Linked DNA regions of Homo sapiens: region 2 is linked to region 1. Evidence: fine-mapped expression QTL. A gene starts in region 1. The other region holds a variant in brackets. All regions are shown on one strand. Distances are between the middles of the regions.

Region 1 (2,906 bases):
GAAATGTGAAGCCTTAAACAGGAAATAAAAGCCTGGGTTTCTTTAGACTATGGTTGGGATAAGGAAGGGGAGTACAGGGGTGATAAACTTTAGCAATATTCCCAGAAAGTGTTGGCGCCTTTGACAGAAGCATGGGAAAGAAGGCATCCGGGTAGAGGCTCTTCACTATTTGCTGGTGGAGGGATCATAGACCCCTCTGAGATCTTATGGACCCTCTCCCCAGAGCACGTACCGGGCAGTATTTACTCCATTTCAGGAGTTCCACAGCCTTGGGGTAGGAGCCCCTGCCTAGGAGATAATAAGACTGACGCTGCCTGATATTCTCACGCCCGCATTCATTCATTCGAACAGGGGATCCCTTTTGTCACGCAAGCAGCTCTACCCTCAGCATCCTACCCGTAACAGGAGCTCCATAAACACTTGTTGACTGACTGCTTGTATCGAGTGCTGAGCTGGAAACAGAGGTGATGAACAGGTATGATATTAAAATAGCAACTAGAGTGTACTGAGTGGACACTGTGCTCTAAAGGTTTTATGTGTATTTTCACATTTAATATGTATTTTCACATTTCTCCCTTTGCGGCGGCCCTTTTCAATACCCATCTTACAGATGAAGCTTAAACTGATTAGCAATTTGCCCTCCAATGACCCGACGACTAAGTGGCAGAGCCCCAATTCTCACCCGGGGAATACTGATTCCAGAGCTACGCTCCTGGGAGCTCACGATGCAGTAGAAGCATCAGAAACGGTAAAGGGGGTGGGAGGGGAGGAGTAAGTGTGACCCAGACTACAAGTAAGAGGAGCTAAGATGCCTTGGCAAATCCCTGCCAGTCCTGAGAGGCGGGAAGCTGAAAGGCTGGCCCGAGTCTTGCAGGAGTTCGCAATCCAGGCGGGGAGTTAGGAAGTGACTCTTTTTTAAGGGGGAGCTGGACAGCTCTCGTCGGCCTTCACCAAGCGCCCACTTCGTGTCCGGCCTCAGGCCACACAACCAGAAGGGCCCGGGCCTAGAAGCCCGAGGGCTCGGGGTAACGAGGCGACGCCGGGCGGCGGGGAGGAGGCCGGGGACCGCCGGGGTTCCTGCAGGCCTGGGACGGCGGGCCTGCTCGAGGACTGACCTTCCCGGAGGCGCCGTCCCCCAGCACGACGATTTTCAGTTGCCGGTCCTGGCTCTCCTCCTCAGAGTCCGACATGGTGTCCCGGGAACCAGGCCCGCCCCTCGAGGTGGGGGGGGAAGGGAAGGATGAAGGCTCCGGGGGCGGGGGAGAGGAGGAAGGGAGGTAGTTGCGGCAGGACCCCCGCCCCGGTGTCTCCGCGCCGGCAGGAGGTATTCGAGGAGAATCACTCGGCAAGCGCCATCTTGCCCACCTCCCCGCCCTCTGCGCGCGGCCCCGCCCCCTACGCGCACGTCGGGCGCGCGCCCCCGCCTCAGAGCCAACCCGCGCCGACCGGCGGCCCCGCCTGACGAGCCGAACCACTCGCGGCCCTGGACTGGTGTGGGGGACATTCCGGCGGGAGAGGCGAGGCGCTGCGTTTCCCTTCAGGAGACAGTTGGCTAGAAGAAGAAAAGAAGTGTTCGTTCAAATTAAGGAGAGAAAACGGGAGCAGAGCAGCTTTCAGGCGTTCCATCAAATTCCCTTTTCTCCTTCCCTCTTGAGAAAGTCTCTGAAGGGAATGGTTCAGCCTGACGGGGTGGAGCAGTGACGCCCGGGCTACGCGCCAGGGTTGCCTGGCAGCCAGGAGTTCGAGGACCGGCGGCGGGGCGGGGCCTGTCTCCGGGCACCCGGGACGCCCGTAGCCTGGCGGAGAGCGCCAGAGAGGGCCCCTGAAAAACCGGACCAGGGAAGAGGGTACCTCGGGGCGGATGAGGGGACAGCTGCTAAGGGCCGAGGCTGCTGGGAAGCCTCAGTAGCGGCCGTGAATACAGTGGAGCTCCGGCGCTGCTTATTTCGGCCTAACTCTTGGTTTCCTCATCTGAACAACCCCAGGCTCCCATGGTTCGTTCATCAGACGCTACTGATCGCCAACCTCCTGGCACCCCATCTTTACCCTAAGGCAGCAGTTCTCATAAAGTGTGGTCTAGGGACCTCTGGAAATCCCGATGACCTCAGAACAATTTTCATAATAATACGGACACCTTGTCTGTCTTTCTCACGTTCCTTCTCTCACTAGTATACCGTTTCCTGGAGGATACGCTTTGTGTACGACGTCATCACTGGCAGCTAAGGGAGCTTGCGTTTGTTGTTTTTAAACATTTCTCAGTTTTCATTTCAATGCAGTAGTGATAGGTGTAACCCACATAAACATAAGCTCTTTGGAGGTCACAGTAATTCTTTAACATTATAGAGAGGCCCTGAGTCCAAAAAATTTAAGAACTGCTGCCCTGGATAATCTCAGTCCAGGAGCGTTAGGTAAACGGCATAAATGAAATTTACAATTTAGTGAGGTAAATTCAAAAATAATAATGCTGTCCTGCTATGGTTGTTTCATTGTTAATCACTTAAAATTTATTGTTACCTTTACTACTATTAGGAATTATGAAGTATAATTATCCCCATTTTGCAGATGAAGTATCTTAAGTTAACAAAATGCTTAGCCCAGAGGCAGTAGTCTTGGAGACCATATGGGCATTAGAACAGGAAAGCAGAACAGTGTAAAGAAATGCCCAGACCTAGAGGCATCACTGGAGTTTAATCTCATGTTTACTAGATATGTGTCCTCGAGCCTCAGTTAGTTCACCTGTAGAACAGACTACTGCCTTTGTGTAGGTTTGAAAATTAAATGAAATAATCGGCATAAAGTAGATAGCACAATGCCTGGTGTGTAGTAAGCACTCAATATTAACCAGTGTAACTATCACCCTCATCATCATCATAATTAGATGATGGTCCGTGTTGGAAGTGTCACTA
Region 2 (2,906 bases), 100 kb before region 1:
TATTGGAGCTAACTTTTCTAATTCAACAAGAGTAAGAACAAATCTTGTCACGAGGAAAAATCCCCATTGAAATCGCCACCCATTGAAATCACCATCCATTAAAAAATAAATAAATAAAAATAAAAGTTGTGTCACTTAATGTGTGTGTACATTTGTTTTTTCTAATGGTTTATTGCTTTTTATTTCTCTTTCTCCCTCCTTCCTTCCAAATCTCCATCTATCATTTACTACTCAAACAAAAGTTTTTTTCCTAACAAATATAACCATGGAAAGACTAGTAGTACCATTGTTCAATTGAAAAAAAAAGAACTTATTCAACAAACATTTATTGAGCATCTATTATATGCCAGGTATTGTGGCAGGTAGTGATATGGTTTGGCTGTGTCCCCACCCAAATCTCATCTTGGGTGGCTGTGTCCTCATCCAAATCTCATCTGGAAATGTAGCTCCCATAATCCTCACAGGTCATGGGAGGGACCTGGTGGAAGGTAACTGAATCATGGAGACGGCTTTTCCTGTGCTGTTCTCATGATAGTAAATAAGTTCTCATGAGATCTTATAGTTTTATAAAGGGCAGTTCCCCTGCACATGCCATCTTGCCTGACGCCATGTAAGGCGTGCCTGTGCTCCCACAGGAGATTTTAGCCCTAGGGGAACTGTCAGACCTGAATGATGCAGGGCAGTCCTGCCTATCACACAGGGCTAGTCCAACCTCAGCATCCCTTGGTCTGCTGCCCTCTCCTGAGGTCCCAGCCTGGCCATACTTGCTTGCAGTGCAGTCTTGGATGTACTGGGGGTCCACATTATACCTCTGCACTGGTGCACTGCACCTGACTGGTGGAAAGTAGTACTCACCGCCATGCACCAGCCTCCCTCGCCCCAGTGAACCCTGCCAACCCCACCACCTCCAGAGCCTCACCCCTGCACCAACACTGCCGCAAGAGTGAAACTAGGAAGGGAGAACAATGGACCTCCCCTACCCTGAGCAGCCACCCCACCTGAGTGATCATGCACAGAGGGCAGGCACAGACCTGCACCCGCCAGCACCCGACCCCCATGCTAATACCACCACCAGCACAGTAGCCAGCAGGGGCCCTCAAAGCAGTATTGCCTCTGCTGCTGCTGTGAATGCCTGCAGGGAGGCAGGCACCTGCTAGCACCCTGCTGCAGTTGATGAGTGTGTACCCCACC[GTGC/G]TGCTGCTGCTGCTGCTGCTAGCACATGCAAACAAGGACAAATCCCACTGCCGCTGCCTTACGAAACACTTTGGCTAGTACCACCTACTGAAGTGTAATGACCAGTGGTCCAGGAATACGTAGGTCCCACCAGCACAGTGGGTTCCTAACCTCGAGGAGTCAGAGAACAAATCTGGGGCTGGATACAAGTCCCCCAGATTTAGAGCATGCAGTCCAGGAGCTGGGAGCTGAGGCTTGGCCCCCTAAAATCTTCCAGAAATGAAGCCAGTTGACTGAACCCACTTTATACCACAATCAAACTCTCAAGGTCATCAAATAGGATAAAAGAAAAAAAGTCCAAAGATCAGCAACATCAAAGACCGAAAGAACATAAGCCCCCAAAGATGAGAAAGAATGAACATAAGAACTCTAACAACTCAAAAAGCCAGAGTACCTTCTTTCCTCTAAATGACGGCACTACTTCTCCTGCAAGGGTTCTGAACTGGACTGAGATGGCTGAAATGACAGAAAAAGAATTCAGAATATGGATAGAAACGAAGGTCACTGAGATGCAGGAGTATGTTGAAACCCAATCCAAGGAAGATCCAAATGATACAGGAGCTGACAGACAAAACAGCCAGTACAGAAAAGAATATAGCTGACCTGATAGAGCTGAAAAATACACTACAGTAATTTCATAATGCAATTCCAACTATTAATAGCAGAATAGATCAACCTTAGGAAAGAATCCCAGAGCCTGAAGACTGGCTTCCTGAAATAAGTCAGACAAGAATAAAGGAAAAAGAATGAAAAGGAATGAACAAAATCTCTGAGAAATAGGAGATTACATAAAGAGAACAAATCCACAACTCATTGGTGTCCCTGAAACAGATGGGGAGATTGGAAGCAAATTGGAACACATATTTCAAGATATCATCCATGAGAATCTCCCCAACCTAGCTAGAGAGGCCAACATTCAAATTCAGGAAATGAAGAGAACCCCAGTAAGATACTTCACAAGAAGATCATCCCCAAGACACATAATCATCAGATCCTCCAAGGTTGAAATAAAAGGAAAAATGTTAAAAGCAGCTAGAGAGAAGGGTCAGGTCACATACAAAGGGAAGCCCATAAGACTAACAGACCTCTTACCAGAAACCCTAAAGGCCAGAAGGGTTAATATTCAATGTTCTTAAAGAAAAGAAATTCCAGCCCAGAATTTCATATCTGGCCAAACTAAGCAAAAAAGAAATAAGATCCTTTTCAGACAAGCAAATGCTCAGGGAATTCTTAGCAGACCTGGCTTACAAGAGCTCCTAAAGGAAGCAGTGAATATGGAAAGGAAAGACCACTATCAACCACTACAAAAACACACTTAAGTACACGGACCACTGATACTATAAAGCAACCACACAAAAAAGTCTGCATAATAACCAGCTAACCTCATGATGACATCCACATGCGAAAGAATAAAAACAGACTCTTATCTTTCACCATAAGCAAAAATCAACTCAAAATGGAGTAAAGGCTTAAATTTAAGACCAGAAACTGTGAAATTCCTAGAAGAAAACAAGAGAAATGCTTACAGACATTGGTTTGGGCAAAGATTTTTATGGATGAGACCTCAAAAGCACAGACAACAAAACCAAAAATAGACAAACAGAATTATATCAAACAAAAACCTTCTACAGAGCAAAAGAAACAATCAACAGAGTGAAGAAATAACCTGCAGA

Alleles and levels. Positions count from the first base shown, and alleles are read on the strand shown. Sizes are in standard deviations (SD) of each study's normalised expression.
For the expression in monocytes after R848 of the gene that starts at base 1,380 in region 1, GTGC is the low allele of the variant in region 2 and G is the other (large effect, 1.5 SD a copy in Quach 2016).

Evidence for each region. PIP is the estimated chance that this variant, and not a neighbour inherited with it, causes the effect.
Region 2: its variant is fine-mapped to the expression of RAB28 in monocytes after R848 (Quach 2016, PIP 0.95).

The regions. Positions count from the first base shown.
Region 1 is chr4:13,482,961-13,485,866 of GRCh38, forward strand. It overlaps RAB28 (RAB28, member RAS oncogene family), which reads right to left and starts at 1,380. Exons shown (of 7, transcript NM_001017979.3): 1 at 1,116-1,380. The coding sequence starts at 1,190. LOC105374495 (a long non-coding RNA gene) reads left to right here and starts at 1,489. Exons shown (of 3, transcript XR_925413.1): 1 at 1,489-1,994. RefSeq lists silencers at 912-1,531, 1,525-1,819, 1,782-1,841 and enhancers at 1,265-1,559, 1,355-2,262, 1,522-1,641.
Region 2 is chr4:13,383,181-13,386,086 of GRCh38, forward strand. All of the region lies in intron 4 of RAB28 (RAB28, member RAS oncogene family), which reads right to left. Among named protein-coding and RNA genes, the nearest start is that of RAB28, 100 kb to the right of the region's middle. RefSeq lists an enhancer at 1,011-1,510. The variant GTGC/G (reference allele first, on the strand shown) is at 1,192.